4 separate regions of the Homo sapiens genome follow, and all the other regions are reported to be linked to region 1. Evidence: microRNA targets listed by miRTarBase, many of them from high-throughput screens and not tested one by one. Region 1 holds a microRNA gene; each other region holds the end of a gene's coding sequence.

Evidence for each region. The annotated mature microRNA hsa-miR-519b-3p reads AAAGUGCAUCCUUUUAGAGGUU and lies in region 1 at 2,060-2,081, opposite strand. An mRNA with a match to its seed (bases 2 to 7 or 8) in the 3' UTR can be bound and repressed. Matches are read on the target gene's strand: a 7mer-m8 pairs with bases 2 to 8, a 7mer-A1 pairs with bases 2 to 7 and ends in A, and an 8mer does both.
Region 2: the mRNA of TNFRSF21 is a reported target of hsa-miR-519b-3p. Seed matches in the 3' UTR shown: 7mer-m8 at 4,229-4,235 and 7mer-m8 at 3,712-3,718.
Region 3: miRTarBase lists PXK as a target of hsa-miR-519b-3p. Seed matches in the 3' UTR shown: 7mer-m8 at 1,874-1,880.
Region 4: the mRNA of MFF is a reported target of hsa-miR-519b-3p. Seed matches in the 3' UTR shown: 7mer-m8 at 1,051-1,057.

The regions. Positions count from the first base shown.
Region 1 is chr19:53,692,270-53,697,343 of GRCh38, reverse strand. MIR519B (microRNA 519b) reads right to left here and starts at 2,131; the gene lies at 2,051-2,131. MIR526B (microRNA 526b) reads right to left here and starts at 2,951; the gene lies at 2,869-2,951. LOC107985342 (a long non-coding RNA gene) reads right to left here. Exons shown (of 3, transcript XR_007067332.1): 3 at 2,722-3,315.
Region 2 is chr6:47,228,197-47,233,270 of GRCh38, forward strand. TNFRSF21 (TNF receptor superfamily member 21) reads right to left here. Exons shown (of 6, transcript NM_014452.5): 6 at 3,336-4,798. The coding sequence ends at 4,569. Among named protein-coding and RNA genes, the nearest start is that of TNFRSF21, 79 kb to the right of the region's middle.
Region 3 is chr3:58,424,006-58,429,079 of GRCh38, forward strand. It overlaps PXK (PX domain containing serine/threonine kinase like), which reads left to right. Exons shown (of 18, transcript NM_017771.5): 18 at 747-2,122. The coding sequence ends at 955. It overlaps PDHB (pyruvate dehydrogenase E1 subunit beta), which reads right to left. Exons shown (of 10, transcript NM_000925.4): 9 at 4,468-4,609; 10 at 3,625-4,174. The coding sequence ends at 4,029. Among named protein-coding and RNA genes, the nearest start is that of PDHB, 7.3 kb to the right of the region's middle.
Region 4 is chr2:227,356,672-227,361,745 of GRCh38, forward strand. It overlaps MFF (mitochondrial fission factor), which reads left to right. Exons shown (of 9, transcript NM_001277062.2): 9 at 315-1,162. The coding sequence ends at 446. Among named protein-coding and RNA genes, the nearest start is that of TM4SF20, 20 kb to the right of the region's middle.

The DNA of each region.
Region 1 (5,074 bases):
GGGCAATCCTCCTGAGTTTCGCCTCCAGAAAGAAAAAGCAGTGCCTACTACACATACCTTATATTTAACCAAGAGAATTGGGCTGGATTTCTAGAGAACAGCAATCAATTTTAAACCAAGTATTCACTTGAGTTCCAGGACAGGGACACTACAGGACAGACCACAGGCGAGGCCTTAAAAGCTCCTCAGTAAAATTTGAACAGCGGGAGGATCACTTGATCGCAGGAGTTAAGAGTCCAGCCTGTGGAACGTGCTGAAACCTCATCAGTACCAAAAATACAGAACTTACCCAGGGGTGGTGGTGCCTGCCTGTAGACACTAATCCAGGAGGCTGAGGTGGCAGGTGGAGGTTGCAGTGAGCCAAGATCTCACCACTGCCCTCCAGCCTCAGCGACATAGCCAGGCCCTGTCTCATAAAAATTAAAACAAAATACACAAACAAAAACAACTCCAAAGTGATATAAGAGTGTTCTCTGTGTATAGAAGACTATTTTGTGTGTATGGAATTATACACAGAACATTGTGATGAAATATACTCATTTTTTTTTGAGACCCTGTATAAAAAAAAACCAAAGTTCCATATACTATATGCTCACATAAAGCATAATTCCCACATATTGGTGCTTTGACAGCACACACAAATGAATGGGGTGACAGAGATTTCCATAGCCCCCGCACATAGGTGACACCCAAATTCATAATGGGTCCCATATTCAAAATTAGGAAAAAAGGCTGAGTGCAGTGGCTCATACCTGTAATCCCAGCACTTCGGGAGGCCTACGTCGGCAAATCACCTGAGGTCAGGATTCAAGAATGGCCTGGCTAACATGGTGAAACTGTGTCTAAAATACATATATATATATAGCTGGTATGGGGGTACATGTCTGCAATCCCAGCTACTTGGAAGGCTGAGGTTGCAGTGAGCTGAGATCACACCACTGCAGTCCAGCCTGGGAGACACAGAGAGGCTCTTTCTCCAAAAAAAAAAAAAAGAGAATTGCTTGAGTCCAGGAGGCAGAGGTTGCAGTGAGCCAAGATCACACTAATGTACTCCATCTCGGGTGACAGAGCAAGACTGTCTCAAATAGTCAAAGACAGAAAAAAAGAACAGGTCTCGCTCTCTTCTTGATTGTGTATGGGCTCACTTAAGGTCAGGAGTTGGAGACTGGGCTGGCCAACATGTTGAAACCCTGTCTCTACAAAAAAAAAAAAAACGAACAAACAAAAAAAACACAAAAATTAGCCGGGCGTGGTGGTGTGCGCCTGTGATCCCAGCTACTCGGGAGGATGAGGCAGGAGAATTGCTTGAACGTGGGATTGTGCCACTGACCTCCAGCCTGATGGACGGAGTAAGACTCTGTTTCAAAAATCGATGAGTAAATAAATAAATAATAAAAATACAAAAATTAGCTGGGTATGGTGGCTCATGTCTGCGATCTCAGCTACTAGGGAGGCTGACTCAGGAGAGAATGGCTTGAATCTGGGAGGTGGAGGGTACAGGGAGCGAAGTTCCTGCCACTGCACTCCAGCCTGGGTCACAGAGCAAGACTCCATCTCAAAAAAGAGGACCGCTGGGCACAATGGCCCACGCCTGTAATCCCAGCACTTTGGGAGGCTGAGGTGGGTGGATCTTGAGGTCAGTAGTTTGAGACCAGCCTGGCCAACGTGGTGAAACCCTGTCTCTACTAAAAATACAAAAATTAGCTGGAAGTGGTGGCAGGCACCTGTAGTCCCAGCTACTTGGGAGGCTGGGGCAGAAGAATTGCTTGAACTCAGGAGGTGAGCTTGCACACAAGATCGCGCCATTGCACTCTCGTCTGGGTCACAGAGCAAGACTCCGCCTCAAAAAAAAAAAAAAAAAAAAGAGGACCGTTTGAGCCTAAAAGATCTACGTTGGAAGTGCTACCCTACTCCAGCCTGGGCAAGAGAGACTCTGTCTTAGAAAAAAAAACAAAATAAAAACAGAATCCCACCATCATCCAAGTCTGATGATAAGCATGCTCTGCAAATGTATTACCAAGATCAGCATCAACTTCACTGTTGCTTTCCTCAAACAGTAAACCTCTAAAAGGATGCACTTTCTTTTCTTTCAGACAACAGAAAGCGCTTCCCTCTAGAGGGTCACAGCATGGGATCTTCTTGCTCCAGCACCCTGGGTTTTTTGTAGAAATTTTCCTTGACCAGGTTAAAATAGAGACAAAAATAAAGACCTATTTATTGGCTCTGTTTGCATGTTTTCTGGAATCCAGAACATAGACCCCTAAAAAGACCATCTCCCGTTCCTTCCTACAAAGGCTCAGCAGGTTAGCCTTGTTCATCAAGGGGAAATCCTCCTGAGTTTTGTGTCCAGAAAGAAAAAGCAATGCCTACTATGCATACCTTATATTTAACCAAGAGAATTGGGCTGGATTTCTAGAGAACAGCAGTGGATTTTCAGCCAAGTGTTCACTTGATTTCCAGCACAGGGACACACAGTCCTGATTAGAGCAGTCAAAATGGAATCTACCATGTTGAAGAATATACATTGTTGCACACACAAACATCCTCCAGGATAGACTACAAGGGAGGCCTTAAAAGCTCCTAAAGAAACCCTGTCTCTACTAAAAATACAAAATTAGCCAGGCATGGTGGCGCAGTCCTATAATCCCAGCTACTTGGGAGGCTGAGGCAGAAGAATCACTTGAACCCGGGAGGCGGAGGTTGTGGTGAGCCAAGATTGTGCCACTGCACTTCAGCCTGGGCAACAGAGACCCAGTCTTAGATAAAAAAACAAAAGAAAAACAAAACCCCAACATCATCCAAGTCTGATTATAAGCGTGCTCTGCAAAGATATTACAAAGATCAGCATCAACTACAACGTTGCTTTTCTCAGACAGTAAGCCTCTAAAAGGAAGCACTTTCTCTTCTTTCAGACAACAGAAAGTGCTTCCCTCAAGAGGGTCACAGCCTGACATCTTCTTGCTCTGATGCCGTGGATTTTTTCCTGGAATTTTCTTTGACCAAGTTAAAATAGACACAAAAATAAAGATGCATTTATTGACCCTGTATGCATGTTTTATGGAATCCAGAATATAAAACTCTATAAGGACCATCTCCAGTTCCTTGCTTCAAAGAATCAGCAGGTTAGCCTTGTTCATCAAGGGGCAATCCTCCTGAGTTTTGTCCCCAAAGAGAAAAAGCAATGCCTACTACACGTACCTTTAACCGAGAAAATTGGGCAGGATTTCTGGAGAACAGCAATGGATTTTAAGCCAAGTGTTCACTCGAGTTCCAGTACAGGACCCACAGTCACGAAGGGAGCATCCAAAATGGAGTCTACGATGTTGAAGAATATACACTGTCATATGCACAAACACTCTCCAGAGTAGATCACAGGCTAGGATGTAAAAACTACTCAATAAAATTTGAGCAGAAATACACAAGTACAAGTGGGGCCCAGTGGCTCAGACCTCTAACTCCTCGAACTTTAGGAGGCCCAGGCAGGAGGATCACCTGCCTCAGGAGCTCGAGACCAGCCCCGGCAACATGGCGAGACCCCATGTGTACAAAAATTACAGAAGTTAGCCAGGTGTGGTGGTGCATGCCTGTAGAGACTAATTCAGCAGGCTTAGGTGGGAGGTGGAGGTTGCAGTAAGCCGAGATTGCACCACCACACTCCATCTTGGGTGACAGAGGCAGATATTGTCTCAGAAAAGAACCACACACACACGCACACACACGCACACGCACACACACCCTAGGTGATATCGGAGTATTCTCTGTGTTTAGAAGAGTATTTTGTGTGTACATAATATATAAGAATATAAAATGAAATATACATCATGTATTTTTGAGACCCTGTCTCAAAGAAAGTTCCAAATATTGCATGCTTATAGGAAGAATAATTCCTATACATAACTGCTTGCTTTGGAAGTACACATAAAAAAATTTAAATGACATAGAATATCCTGGCCACTGCACAAAGGCGACACCCAAGTCCATGCTGGTCCCATATTCACCTAATTATTTTTATTTTTATTTATTTATTTATTTAGAGACAGAGTCTCACACTGTTGCCCAGGCAGGAGTGTAACGGTGTGATCTCTGCTCGCTGTAACCTCCGCCTCCCAGATTCATGTGATTCTCCTGCCTCAGCCTCCCGAGTAGCTGGGATTACAGGTGAGTGCCACCACACCCGGCTAATTTTTGTATTTTTAGTAGAGACGGGGTTTCACCATGCTGGCCAGACTGGTCTCGAACAACTGACCTCAGGTGATCCTCCTGTCTCAGCCTCCCAAAGTGCTAGAATTACTGGTGGAAGTCACCATACCCAGACTAGTCCCATATTTAAAATTAGGAAAAAGCAAAAGATGCCCACACCTCAACAGCAATGTTCGAGTACATCTCAAATACATTGCACATCCCATCTGCAAGGGACGCTGAGGTCCCCTTCAATTCTACGTGAACCCACGTGAGGTTCTATAAACCAGTGCCCGAATAATTTCTACGTAGGAAAAGTTGTTGATAGCCGGGCGTGTTGGCTCACACCTGTATTCACAGCACTTTGTGAGGCTGAGGCAGGTGGACCAACTGAGGTCAGGAGTTCCAGACCAACCTGGCCAACATGGCAAAACCCTGTCTCTATTAAAAATACAAAAATTAGCCGGGCGTGGTGGTGCACGGTTGTAGTCCTAGCGACACGTGAGGCTGAGGCAAGAGAATCGCTTGAACCCGGGAGGCAGTGGTTGCAGTGAGCTGAGATCACACCATTGCACTCCAGCCTGGGTGACAGAGCGAGACTCTGTCTCAAAAAAAAATAATAATAATAAAATAAATAAATAAATAAATAAATAAATAAAAGGTGTTGAGGACTGGAAGAACATGCATCGCTCACTATGGCAACAAGAAGAGCTGCTGTGCATTCCACCTGTTACGAGGGAGCCCCTTCTAGGGTCCTCAAGATTTTTGTGAAAACAACTGGTTTTGTTGCATGCTACATTTATCACTGTGACTGAGATTCATCTTGTCTACAACAGTTTCTTATATTAGCCACAGCTAATATAAGACACATTTGACATCTTAGCAAGTAACTGGC
Region 2 (5,074 bases), not on the chromosome of region 1:
CAACTAAATGTCCACGTATGGTAAACTGGATAAAGAAAATGTGGTACATACGGAATGTGGTACCATGGAATACTATACAGCCATAAAAAAGGATGAGATCATGTCCTTTGCAGGAACACGGATGGAGCTGGAGGCCATCATCCTTTGTAAACTAATGCAGGAACAGAAAGCCAAACACTGCATGTTCTCACTTATAAGTGGAAGTTAAATGATGAGAACACATGGACACAAAGAGGGGAACAAGACATTGGGGCCTATTTGAGGTTGGATGGTGGCCAGGGGAGAGCATCAGAAAAAAATAACTATTAGATACTAGGCTTAGTATAATATTTGGGTGACAAAATAATCTGTACAATAAACTCCTGTGACAAGTTTACACACACACACACACACACACACACACACACACATATATATACATACAACCTGCACATGGACCCCTGAACCTAAAGTAAACCTTTTTTTAAAGCTTCCCCCCAAATAAAAAAAAATTTAAAATTTAAAATTTAAAAAAAAGTGCTGCTGCCTGAGTCCTATCTCCTGTGATTCTGACATTGTTGATCTTGCATATGGCCTGGGCATTGGGTCTCTCAAAGTTTTCCCGCTGATTTCAATGTGTAGTCAGAATTAAGACCCACTACTGTAGAATTTGCCCAAGATTGTCTGGTTCTAGAAATCTCGTTGGGTCATCAGAATTTGTTTACTTCTCTCACATGGAAGTGGTATAATCTCCCATATTAGTGCTACCCTTTGCATGAAACTGAGGCATAATTGGCCTGTTTCAGGCTACCCAGTGTTATCTCATGACCGGGAGCATCCACATCACCCAGGAGCTTGTTAGAAATGCAGCCTCAGGCTGGGCATGGTGGCTCACGCCTGTAATCCCAGCACTTTGGGAGGCCGAGACGGGCGAATCACAAGGTCAGGAGTTCGAGCCCAGCCTGGCCAACATAGGGAAACCCCGTCTCTACTAAAAATACAAAAAAAAGTAGCCAGATGTGGTGGCGGGTGCCTGTAGTCCCAGCTACTTGGGAGGCTGAGGCAGAATTGCTTGAACCTGGGAGGCGGAGGTTGCAATGAGCCGAGATCGTTGCCACTGCACTCCAGAGTGAGAGACTCCGTCTCAAAAAAAATAAAAAAGAAAGAAAGAAAGAAAGAAATGCAGCCTCAGCCCAGTCCCACAGAACAATTAAAACCGAATCTGCCTTTAAGATACCCAGGTGTTTCAGTTGCATATTCAAGTTTAGGGAGCACAACACAGTGGCCTCAAATTCTGCATTCCTAACACAATGCTTCCTAGTATTATGGATACTGCCGGTCCTCATCCACAGTGGCAAGGATCTAAAGCACTTTCTGTAAGTGTAGGAAACTCATTCTGGAATTCACCACAAACCTGAATTGAATTCTCTCCGAATCTGCCTTTTTAATTGACTGCTTATTCCCAGATGATTCTTATTTACATGAAAGTTTGAGAACCACTGATGCAGGCCCAACTTTTTCCCAGAGCAGGACTCATTCTCTTATTTGAAAAGCAGCTCAGTCTAATTGCACTTAGCCTACATCAGCCTAGAGGAAAGTATATTATCCTCTAGAGAAAAATACATCATCTCTTCCTTAGCCCTTCAAATAACTGAAGCTAATCTTTCTCCTGTTGCCTGGTCTTCATTGTCAGGCTTAGATTTGCCAACAGTTGCTCCTGATTCTGTTTCTTACTCTTCCTGGTATCCCCCTATGTCCCCACGACACACTGGAAACCTTTCACTTCAGCCATACTCCTCACAGTAAGACAGGCCAAAGCTAGAGGAAAGCTCTAAAGTGTGCCACACAGTATACAAATGACACTATCATCGGCTCTGATCAGAACTTCTGATTTTTTAATAATGCGGCTGGAGGTTCCATTCTTTTTAGAAAAGCTATATATCATGTTAGTTCAATATTAAGCTTTCATTTAACCACATCTCCTATGTTCCTTCCCTATGGATCATCAACAGATGTCACCTCATTCCAATATTTTCACAAGTACTGACTGACAAATAAATTTCATCACTGTGATCTCTGCCCACTATTTCAGCCAACAAGGAATTTCCGGTCACTGGTCCTAAATACATGGAACAGTCAGTCTTGGATTCAGACAGTCAGAAGACATGGATTCAAGTCTGATCTCTACAACTTTGCTATAGGCCTTACACAAGTTCTTTAGCCTTTATAAGCCTGTTTTTAAATCTATAAAATGGACACAATAATAGTACCTACCTTATAGTTGTGAGGATTCAATAAGGTAATACAAAAATCACTTTGCAAAGTATAAACCTGTGTAAATGTGAGTTATTAACGAAAGCATCCCAAGACACAAGGTACAAATAACCCACAAACTTAATCATAATAACCATTCATTCTTTGTGTTTTCTACCCCCACATGAAATTAGTGGCAGTTCTGAGATCCTCTGAAATGCAAACGCTGTCTCCTCCACTACCATCTGTGACCCATTCTAGTTTGCTTTCCTTCCTGATAAGAGTTCCTGTCTTTTATTGACAAAAGGCGGGGAAACCTGGTGTAAGAACCAGTGTAATTAAATACCAGGATAGTTCTCTAGAAACCAACCATGTGGAAGTGGATGAAACCAGAAAAACCCTTTAATGTCGCTGACGTGGGTGTCCAAATGTTCGGGCAGGGCATCCACTTCCAGTTTCTCACTGAAAGAGGAACTTAAAATTGCTAAGGTTCTGGTTGTTGGAATTCTGTAGAGCCACGGTTCCCAAGCAAAGGGAAACATGCAATGAATATGATATGATATATGATATGCTACAATATATTCTATCAACATGAGATCTCACCCTGCCTCAAGACCATGAGAGCCCTCTGAACTTATTCAGGAACAATGAGGTATCTACCCATTTCCTATAATAAGGACAATCTCAAAAACTGAATTCTCAGACTTAATCCAAAAGACTAGGAAGTGCTTGGTAGTTTTCACTAAAGTCCTTCCCTACGAACCTCCAGGTACCTTTCCAAACACAAATCTATAGAATTGTAGAATACATTATAGCATATCATATATCATATCATATTCATTGCATGTCTCCCTTTGCTTGGGAACTGTGGCTCTACAGAATTCCAACAACCAGACCTTAGCAATTTTAAGTTCCTCTTTCAGTGAGAAAATGGAAGTGGATGCCCTGCCTGAAATCTTTGCTAATTTCCACGATTTACAGATTAGAATAGCTGAGGTTTTTAGAGCACACATACTTTTGCAAAAGACTAATCAAAGAGTCACAACTAGAGGACATGTACAAAGCAAGAAATTCAACGATTAAATATACTCGGACTACTTAAGTAACAAACACCTAATGTTTATTAATAAATTAGTACACTTGAAGGCATTTTTCTGATATCGGTCCTTCACCACTACCCACAAACCCCACCCACACAAAGGGAGTCCACGCCACCTTTGCATTGGAACCTGGCAACTGAGCATTAGAAGGTACATTTGTAAATGGGAGCATAGTTGCAAATATATCAGACAAGGGTTCTTACAGTTGCAGCCATTTTTAATTAAAGTAATTGGTGAAGGAATCCCACCAGGACCAAGGCCTTGAGAGCAGATTGGACCTATTGATTATGTGTATATAAAAAACAAGACATCTTTTAAAGCAAAGCTGGGCAAATTCTCTATGGAAAGGGCGCCACTGGCACTTGATTTTGACTTTCCAAAGTGCAGCAATGTGTTCCAGAACAGCTCAAATCCTAAAAGGTGAAGTTCAAGTTCTTTGGTGGCCCAGTTGTCAAGCCACTTAAATAGCAAATCCTGATGGCTTGAGGATTTCATTTCTCCAGCCCAGAGCATATTAGCATAAGAAGAGTACAAGTAATCAAGCATTCTACACGGTGTCCAGGTGAAAACCATACAATCAGCAATAGTGTGGTCAAGTTTCAGCCATGAATATGAACTATACAAGACATATTTAAAAGATAACTCAAAGTTGAATTGCATTACAGTAACTCAATGGGGTCTTAAATTTTCTTAATCTTTAAGAAAATTTATAAAGGACAAACAATAATAAAAATAGTAATAATATTTGTTTTTAAAAAGTAGGTGTGAATGTTAAGAGACATAAAGACTGCTTATAGGATTCACAAGATGCCATTATACTTTTAAGAAGTTAAGAGCCTCACAATCCAGTGTGTGGGAAAAGTCACACTGCATTTATGGTAAGTTAAGTAAATTTAAAGTGCACAGAATAATCTTGAAAATACATAAGAAGGCAAAATGGAGAAAATATGGAACTTAAAAAACTTTAGTGGTGGGTATTTCACAACAGTTACACCTGGCAAAGGCTTATAAACCAACTTCCCAGAAGAGTTATTTAAAAAAAAAAGAGAGAGAGAGAAGGAGAAAGAACTCAAGCACTGGCCATATTCTCTGTTAAACACACACACACACACACACACACACACACACACAAACACACACACACACCCCAAACAACAAAAATCAGAAACAGAAGAAAATTAAAAAACCACCCTGCCACTAAATTGAGTAATTTCCAGAATGCAGTATCCCTATGTTCTACAGCAGGTCAGGAAGATGGCTATAAACAGAGTCCAGGAGGGTCTGGCTGGCTTCCTGGCTCTTGACTCCAATAATTTCGAATAGCCGGTCTAGTTTGTCCTCAGCCTGGGGAATCTCTTCAATCACCCGCAGCTCCTCAGGATTTAGAAAGTGGAGCATGTCATCAAAGATAGGCTGCAAGTCACAGGGGTCCAGGCGTACCTGCCGCAACACTGTGTCCTTCTTTTCTGCAGAGAAGAGAGGGAAGCAAAGACAGCTGTAAGGTGACTGTACTGGCAAGGCCTGGAGGAAGGAGAGCAGGGTCCTAGAGAGAGAGACATCTATGTCCCCCCCAGCCTATTATTCTCCATCCTCCATTACAGTGAGAGAGTGAGTGATCCTCTGGCACATTCGAAACAACACAAGAGTTTTTACTTGTGTTGCACGTGTAAGATAGCAAACAAGATTTGCCTGGTAGAGATCAGACAAGGTCTTGCTTGAATGGCTTGCTGAGTTATCATTAA
Region 3 (5,074 bases), not on the chromosome of region 1:
TGTTCCTTGGTTGGGCCACAATGGAGAGAACAGTACTTGAGAAGGATTTCTCTGTAAGAATACCATGGCAGAGAGACCCCTCTGCCCCCTGCTTTGCATTGCTAACAGTTATTAGCATTTTATATTTCTTTAATGCAACCTAATAGGAAATTATTATTCGAGACAGACTCCTCTGGGAAATGCATAACCCAGGAGGCACTGATTCCTTGCTGAGAATCCTGAGTGGTCTGTCATTTTACATAAGATCACATCCTTCAAACATTGTGTATGTTGGAGCAGCGAAAGAACTGTTCACCCCTTATGAATAACTGACATTCAGGAAGCCCAACTCCATCATGCAGATGTCTATCTTTAATTGCTAGCTCAGAAGCAGACAGAGCTTCCTGGGACCTGGCTAAAGTAACTGATAGATGGAACTCTTCTTTGGGGACTATTACTTTGCAAATGGGGTCAGAGCCTCATCTATGCAGAGAATGTCACCATATGTGGTTTCATGTAATCTGTAATTATTTGTTCCAACAGCCTTTAACATGACTATTGTTTGAGAAACATGGCAACTTTTAATTCCCCTTTGATGCTTCTAGCTTTCTTTAGTATTTTAAGAACTCATACAGTACTAGGTATGTTGGTCCCTCTGAGAAAAACATGTGGACTCTCACCAGTCCGTTGTGCTCAGGACTGAGCAGCAGCGTGTGTGCAGGGCAGCTGTGGAGGTGAATACTGATTGTCCCCCTTTTCCTCCACAGGGATATCTGCATTACCTCCACCTCCTCCACCTCCACCACCACCAGCAGCTCCCTTGCCTCCTGCGAGCACCGAGGCACCTGCCCAGCTCTCGTCTCAGGCTGTGAATGGCATGAGCCGAGGGGCCTTGCTCAGCTCCATCCAGAATTTCCAAAAAGGAACTTTGAGGAAAGCCAAAACCTGTGATCACAGTGCTCCGAAGATCGGCTGAAGCTTCCTGTTTACACTTGGAGGGAAAAGTTCTTTTTTATTCCTACTCACCCCTACCCCCCAAACTACCCTCTTCCTGGGAAAGTAATTGCTGAGCCAGTACAGCCACAAACAGTACTATTTTGCAGATGCTCATGTAAGCAGCTTTTCGAGAGAAATAATTCTTTAAGCAGAATAAAGTTAGGCTGGCATTGCTCCCTTAAGATCTTGCTCCTTTATTAACCCTGTAAAGGAGTCTTGTTTATCCTCTAATGGCCAGGCTTTTGGGACAGCAGCATATTGAAATATTTTCACCAACTAAAGGAAATAGACAGAAAAACAATGACAATATTCAATCACAGCAGTAAATGGCCTTTGTGTTGCAATCCCTTCTACCCCATCAGACAGCTCCTAGAAACATTCCTCTTACAGTTCATTTCTCTAAAGCATTTTCTGATTCTTAGATAACTCCAATTTTTGCTACCTTTATCTTAGACATTAACACTATAGCCCAAAGCATAGTTACTTTGCTAAATCAGAAAGCAACTGAGTTCTTTGTTTTCTCCTCAAATAGAATGGGGAACGTTCACAACATTCTCTTAAGTTCTAACAGGAATACCATTGTGGTTATAGAACTCAGGGCTGCTAAAGCAACTACTCTAGACCCATAGTTCTTTTTAGTTAGATGTATTGAAACAGACAAAAATATTAACATCAGAAAAAGCTCTTGCCAATTAGAGGATCTTCTTAATCCTCAGCAATTAAGTTTGGGGTTTGAGGGGGGCAGGTCATTGTTACAACAGAAGTAAATTTGGCATCTATAGAAATCAATTATGATTTTTGAAAGATTTATCTAAATATATCAATATAGCATCTCTTTAATGTTAGTCATTTATTAGAAAGATCCTTTATCCTGATTTGCTTAAACCTTTCAATAAATTGCACTTTAAAGGATTATAAATAATCCATTTAAAAATTCAAGTACACACATCAGTGTTGGTTACTATGCAGAGAATGTCATTGTGTATAGTTTCATGTAATCTGTTATGTCAGCTGTATTTTTTATTAAAATCATGTCAAGAAAACGTGTTGTCTGTAGCTTGACAAGATATTTCAAATGAGAACTTTTTGTAGCGTCTGTTGTTAGCAAAGAATAGATTCACACAGTCTAAGGTTTCCTTCCTACCTATCCTGTCTCTTATTCTTTTGTGTCTCACTTTTCCTCTAAGAACTAAAAATCCTGCCTTGCTACTTAAATTAGGTACCACCTATATGCTTCTCTAACTAATTTAAACCCATCTTTTCCATCTCAGCTTCTGGAGGGCAGTATTTGACAGAATATCTGATCTTTGGAAATGGGAAAAACAACTGATATAAACTTTGCCATAATTTTAAAGAGAATGCTATTAGAATTAGGCATTTGGAGAGTCTGTGGAGAAGTTCCTGTTTCAAGTGTGATGCAACCTAGGTGATTACCTGATGGAGGCTTGTGAGGCCTGAGTCCTTCTGAAGTCAGTTTTGCTGACTATTCTGGATAGTTCAGATATATGAATACAAACAGGTAATGGTCTTGTACAGTATCAGCTTATTTTCCACATGGAACTAATTTCTTTTGTTGTTATTTTTAAGACAGGGTTTCGCTCTTTCACTCAGGCTGGAGTGCAGTGACCCAATCACAGCTCACTGCAGCCTTGACCTCCCAGGGCTCAAGCAATCCTCCTATAGGCACACCACCAGATACCTGGGTTTTTTGTTTTGTTTTTTTTGTTTTGTTTTTGTAGGCAGGGTTTTTGCAACGTTGCCCCAGGCTGGTCTCAAACTCCTGGGCTCAAGCAATCCCTGCCTCAGCCTCCCAAAGTGCTGGGATTATAGGCATGAGCTACTGTGGCCTGGCAGCACTAATTTCTTAATAAATAGAATTTCAAGTTTTCTACCCACATTGACTTTTTTTTTTTCTATCTATCTTTTCTTTGTAGAGATGGGGTTTTGCCATGTTCCCCAGGCTGGTCCTGAACTCCTACACTCAAGGGATCCACCCACCTCGGCCTCCCAAAGTGCTAGGATTACATGTCTGAGCCACCACACCCAGCCAATTCTTTTTTTTGAGACGGAGTCTTGCTCTGTTGTCCAGGCTGGAGTACAGTGGCGCCATCTCTGCTCACTGCAACCTCCGCCTCCTGGGTTCAAGCAATTATCCTGCCTCAGCCTCCCGAGCAGCTGGGTCTACAGGCGCATGCCACCATGCCCGGCTTTAGTAGACAGGGTTTCACCATGTTAGCCAGGATGGTCTTGATCTCCTGACATCATGTTCTGCCCGCCTTGGCCTCCCAAAGTACTGGGATTACAGGCATGAGCCACCACGCCCAGCCCAGCCAATTCTTTCAATATAAAAATACAATAGTCATGGCCAGGTGTGGTGGCTCATGCCTGTAATCCCAGCAGTTTGGGAGGGCCAAGGCAGGTGGATCACCTGAGGTCAGGTGTTCAAGACCAGCCTGGCCAACATGGTGAAACCCCACCTCTACTAAAAACACCAAAATTAGCCGGATGTGGTGGCTAATTTCCTACTGAGGCTGAGGCAGGAGAATCACTTGAACCTGGGAGGTGGAGGCTGCAGTGAGCCAAGATTGTGCCATCACACTCCAGCTTGGGGAACAGAGCCAAACATTGTCTCAAAAAAAAAAAAATTAGTCATGTTAGAAATTCCTTTATTCCTTATCAAAACAAACTAACAGTAAATGTATATTATATGCTTTAATTTTATACATATAAGTTATCTTGTTTGGATACATCTTTCATGAGGACTCTGCCACATCCATACTTTGTCCTTGTGGTGAGAGAGGATAAAATGTTATATAATTTGTTATTCAAAGAACATGGCAACCGTAACAGACAAAAGGAAGCATGGCATCTAGGGGAGGAGAGTGGAGAGTTTTCCATACACAAACACATTTAAACTTCCCTGTACAAAAATACCTGCTGTTGCTTTAGAAATCGTTTTCCGTTATGAATAGTCAGGTCTTGCAGTACAAATCCAGGTGCAGTGCCAGCAAGTATTTCAAATAAATTTCAACGACTTGATATTCAAGTCCAAACTAAATATTTAATGTTTTCTTTATTGCAAATATGATGTCTTTGACCTGAGGTATAGAGTTGTCCTCTAGAATCTTTGCATAAGGCATAGGGACATCAGCACCAGTGACACGAACAGCAGGAGCATCCAGGAAATTGAACGCAGGACCTAGGAGAAGGAAGGCTCAACTGAGAGAGTGCAAATGCCAGCTGGGCACTACCACCTTGGCACAGAGGTGTGGCTGACCAGGAAGAGAAAATGTAAGGAATGCTAATTATGGGGAACCGCTTTCTGGATTTGCTTTTAAAAATATCTGCCTGAAGAGAAATGCCAAACTTACAAGTTTAAAGTTGAAGTCGTTTGGCCACTCCTAGCTTTCAATCTCTTTATCCTGTACGTATTCAGGTACATGATGTTTACTATAGCTTGACTGTATTCTAGAACCAGTTTCTTTGAAATACCTTCCATGATCCTGGCACAGATTTCAGCTCCTACTCCAAACTGTGGCCAGCCTCCTTCCACAGTTACAAGATGATTTGTCTTCATGACACTGGCTTCTATGGTTTCCATGTCCATTGGTCTAATGGTACGCATATTTATCACCTAAACAGGTAATATAATCAAGTTTACAGAGCTATTGCAGCACAAATAGAGCCTTATCCCCATAATACCATTTCCTTTTTTGTTTCCTGTTAATCTTTGTATCTAGGAAAATCTAATCTGCCTATGAATACCTATTCATGAATGTACAAACTGTAAAAGGAAAAATTTTAATTAAAACAAAGATCTGTATGTCTACCACAAGCAGCTCTGTGCAGTTATAGGATTCATTTATCTTCCTTCACTTTTTTATTTCTTTTGGGATGGAGTTTTGCTCTTGTTGTCCAGGCTGGAGTGCAGTGGCGTGATCTCGGCTCACTGCCACCCCCGCCTTCCCAGTTCAAGCCATTTTCCTGCCTCAGCCTCTGGAGTAGCTGGGATTACAGGCATAGACCACCACGCCTAGCTAATTTTTGTATTTTTAGTAGAGATGGGGTTTCAACATGTTGGCCAGACTGGTCTTGAACT
Region 4 (5,074 bases), not on the chromosome of region 1:
CTTTTCTGCCAGAATAACAGTAGGTAACCGCTTCCTCACCTCACTATGTAATCAAGTTAGGAAGGAAATACACCCTTCCTAACTCAGAAATCTGAAGAAGGGAAAGGGAAAGGATGTTTAAGTGAATTTAAGCTGTCATGAATGACATGTTTTTCTATGTGTAGTTGTGTTTATTTTGCTCCAAATGAAACTTTCCATGTTTGTAATAATACTTTTGTTGACAAATTATTATACTACTTACTTTATAAGAATCTGATTGCCCTATTCATTAAAGCCTCTATATTATATTTTTTGTGTGTTTGTTTTTCACTTAGATAATCAAACTAAATAGACGTCTACAACTTCTGGAAGAGGAGAACAAAGAACGTGCTAAAAGAGAAATGGTCATGTATTCAATTACTGTAGCTTTCTGGCTGCTTAATAGCTGGCTCTGGTTTCGCCGCTAGAGGTAACATCAGCCCTCAAAAATACTGTCTCAACAGCTGGAAATATAAAAGATTTGCAAACTTCTTTGTTTCTGTCTCTGCATTGTATGCCATTTTATAGTCCACACCCTGAAAATGTATTTCTTCCAGAAAGTCTGGAGGAAGGACCTATATTTGTAGAAGTAAAGGTATATTCTGTCACTCAGCTGTATTCACGTCTGAGCAGTTCTGCAGTAACACCTGCTTAAAATTCTCCCTTTGCATGTTTTGTAAATAGGCTCCAGTTTTGTTTTTTAAAAGGAATTTATTTTTTGCCTCATCAGTCCACCCAACTGATTCTGAATGGGAGAGAGTCTGTAGAGAATTGATTCAGAAAAGTGTCTGTGAAAGAAAAACAATTATTTTGTCCTGTTTCTCAAACAGTGTTAAGCAGTTTTGTTAATAGACATTTTTGCATCGACACTTCAACATTAACACTTTCAAAGTCATGGTCTGGTGCCAGATTTAAGAAACTCGAACCACCTAATATTTCATAACCTTCTTCATTAGGTACTTGTACAGATTAATTTCTAACATTGCAGCAGTTTCATATGTGTGCAATATGTGCATTCTTTCATTTTAGTTTTGCACTTGGTTTTCTATAAAGTACGTTTTTACTCAGTTCATGCGTGAACAATTTAAAAAACGACAGAATAAGGTACAAATGTAGTGTATTTAATAAACTGTCAACCAAAGAAGTATTTGTCTGTTGAAGGATTTTATTTCATCATTTGTGCAATCAGCTACATTTTGTATCATATTACCTTATGAGTCTTCCCGTCTCAGAGCAAGTAATACAATTAATGACCTGGTAGGTAGCAAGAACCTGCTGTGCTTCCTTTCAGACCTTCATCCTGGTGGTGGTGGCTGTTGGTTGCATTGTAGGTGGTTTTCTAATTTATAATATCTATAAAGTGGTTCAGGTTTAAATACCTTGAGTTGTGTATACTTTTTTTTTTTTGAGATGGAGTCTCGCTCTGTTGCTGATGCTGGAGTCCCGTGGCATGATCTCAGCTCACTGCAACCTCCACCTCCCAGGTTCAAGTGATCCTTCTGCCTCAGCCTCCAGAGTAGCTGGGATTACAGGCGCTGGCCACCACACCCAACTAATTTTTGTATTTTTAGTAGATACAGGGTTTCGCCATGTTGGCCAGGCTGGTCTCGAACTCCTGACCTCAGGTGGTCTGCCTGCCTCAGCCTCCCAAAGTGCTGGGATTACAGCCACTGCGCCCAGCCAGAGTTGTATATACTTTTTTCATGGCAGTATTTATTTGCTAATTATATATAGGTGAATTTAAATCTCAAGGCTGGGTGTGGTGGCTCACGCCCGTAATCCTAATACTTTGGGAGGCCTAGGCGGGTGGATCACTTGAAGTCAGGAGTTCGAGACCAGCCTGGCCAATACAGTGAAACCCCATCTCTACCAAAAATACAAAAATTAGCCAGGTGTGGTGGCAGGCATGGTGGCAATAGCTGTAATCCCAGCTACTCAGGAGGCTGAGGCAGAAGAATCACTTGAACCCAGAAGGCAGAGGTTGCAGTAAGCTGAGATCATGCCACTGTACTCCAGCCTGAGTGACAGAGCCAAACTCCGTCTCAAAAAAAAACTAAAAATTTAAAAGTAAATCTCAAAAGAATTAAACCAAGTGAAGCCAAGTGCTAGACAGTTTTAGCTCTCAAAACTTATATTTCCCCATTTTCGGTTCAGAAATGGGTAGAATTCAGTTAGGTGCAACATTCTCCACACATCTTTGGTATCTTTCTTCCAAGGCAGGGAGTTTGGGGAAAGGCAGTTGAGGAAATTCCTTGGATAGAGTTAGATTTAGCATTTCCGTTCTTGCTTCTTATCCCTCTAAAATAATATCAAGACAAAGATTCTTCTCTGTACTTAGAAGTTTTCTGACTTTTGGTAATGATGCAACTATATTAATTCTAGATTTATGTATACCAGAAGGTAATTTCTGTGGTTATCCTCCAAATTGAAATCACAAAAATGAAGAAAAATGATGGATAAGGTTAGTATCTTTTGATAAACAGACATGAAAAGGATTCCACAAAGGTCAAAAAATGAAATAAAAGCAGGAATACTGAGAGAGAAGTGCGGAAGCCCTTTTTTTCCCTCATGATTCTTACCAAAGAATGGACACTTGGAGCTTTCTCCCTTAATGATTGTGCAAGGGGTAGAAGATCGACTTCCCTACCTCAGGCAGGCACCAGCTGTAACAGGAGACTCGTGAATGAAGCTAAGACCCCAACAGACGGTGAATGAAAACTCTGTTTACAGTGCAAAAGGGGACAACCAAGAAACCTGCCTTACCTGACCTTGTCACATATCTAGAAGTAGAAAAGCTTGAATCTCTCTAACTCCAAAGTTAGGATCTCTATTAAACACCTGTGTACTTCCCCTAAAAATTGTTAATTACTGTTGAAATATATTTTGGAGTTGAGAAGAACAAATTAGTTCCTGGTTAGTATAACCAGATATTTGAGCTGAGCCTTTCAACAAGCAGAGAAAGAACAAGAAAATATTCCAGGTGCAGATGATAGAGGGAGAAATGGATACAGTCAGGAGCCAAAGTCGTATCATACAACTAAGTATAGCAAATATATTGTTGCACTACTGAAAGTGCACCCTTCTCCCCACTTCTAGTAATTATGGTTGAAGTATGTGCAGGTTGTTTACACTTTGAAGGATAACATCATGGAAGTAGTATATTTTCAAGAGAGCTTTCCTTTTTCCTTCCTTCCTGCATGAATGTGTGTTTCCAGCTCCTTAACTATAGTGATTGCCCAGCCCTTATCCAAAATTCTTTGGACCAGAAGTATTTTGAATTTCAGAGTTTTTCAGATTTTCAAGTATTTACATATACATAATGAGATATCTTGAGGATGGGACCCAAGTCTAAACATGAAATTCATTTATATTTCATACATACCCTCTACACATAACCTAAAGATAATTTTATACAATATTTCAAATTTTGTGTATGAAACAAAGTTTGTGTATGCTGAACCATCAGAAAGCAAAAAGCAAAGATGTCATAGTGATATCTCAGCCACGCATGTGGACAGTCGGGTTTTTTGCCATCACTATCATTCCTGACTCTGAGTGTATATGCTGCCAATAAACAGTCATTTTTTCTTAACACTTTTTCACACATAAATACTTAACATTAAAAAATGACACACTATTAATACAGTGAAAAAACTGCGTTCAAGTAACTAAGCAGCACAGGGGCATCACCAGATACTGCACCAGCTGTTAGACAACAGCCACAACCAAGAACAGCCACGGCAAGTTTCCTGTCCCCACTGGCGGTACTGTTGGAGTAAAGATTACTGGACACTATTTTTTTCAGTGAGAAGAAACATGAGAAGCAGTTGAGAGGCTAGGAAGTGGATCCTGTGGAGACGAGGCATTCTTCTCAGTGGCTTTTTAAAGTATTTCTTCCAGAGTCATCTACCTCATGAACAATGTTTTTGTCTGAGAAACCTCTCTTTGCTTTTATAAACTGACGTGATTTCTTGTTCTGTTTTGAATACACACTGCTCTAGTCCTTCAAGAAGCCCATCACGTATTTTCACCATATAATCTGTAGGCACTTTTTCTGCAATGTTAATGTCTTCACTATTAGGATCACCTTTGATTCAGAACCGTTCAGCTATTTCACCATGGGTTGATGAACAACTGGAGACCCATCATCGATGTTAAAAACTTCAACATCCACTTCTTCCAGCTTACTGACGGACTCTGAAGGTATATTTTTTACATATATAAGGAGGTCAGACATCATTTTTTTTTCTCACTTGACATAGGGATTCCTTCCAAGTCACCACCTTGTTTATCATCATCACTGAACATAGTTGCAGGCCAGAGGTTGTGCTGGACATTCAGAACTGTGTCTTTAGTCACCGTGTTCTAGTTGTTGGCAACAGCATATGGCATCCTTCATGCTAAACTTGTTTTGGAAACCTTCTGTGCCATGCCCTGTTCACTGCTGCTAACATGCTATTCCAATAAAGTTTTTATATTTACTCATTGATGTAAGGATACTCTGGTCACTGGCTGAATTAATGAAGTCACATTTTGGGGAAAGTACATGGCATAAATATTTTGGGGGGTGATGAGAAAATTTGTAAGCACCATTGCTGACCCTTGTTCACTAGAGTACAGTGAGCTGTCTTATTTTTGTTTTAATTACATGACCATTAGCAGTTTGACAGTTCATTGAGTAAGTATCGAGTCTTCGCTAAAAGCTGAGTACTGAAGATAGGATTCATTAATTCATTCAACTAAATGCAATGTTTCTGCTTTGTACCAGGCACTGTACTAAGTACTCTTTATACCAGGAGGGAATAAACATGTTCCTGTACCCCTGGAGCTTATAGTCTAATGGGGGACAGTGAAATTTAAGAAGCAAGCACAAAGGAAAATGCAATCATCATTGTGATAAATGCTGTAAATGAAAGCATGGTAAAAGAGTAAAGGGAAACCTAGTTTTCATTAGACGTTTAGGAATAGCCTCTCAGAAAAAGTGGTATTTGTGCTGAAGTCAAGGATAAAGAGTGCTGCCAGAGATAAGGCAGGTGGGGGTAGGAATGGGGCTGGA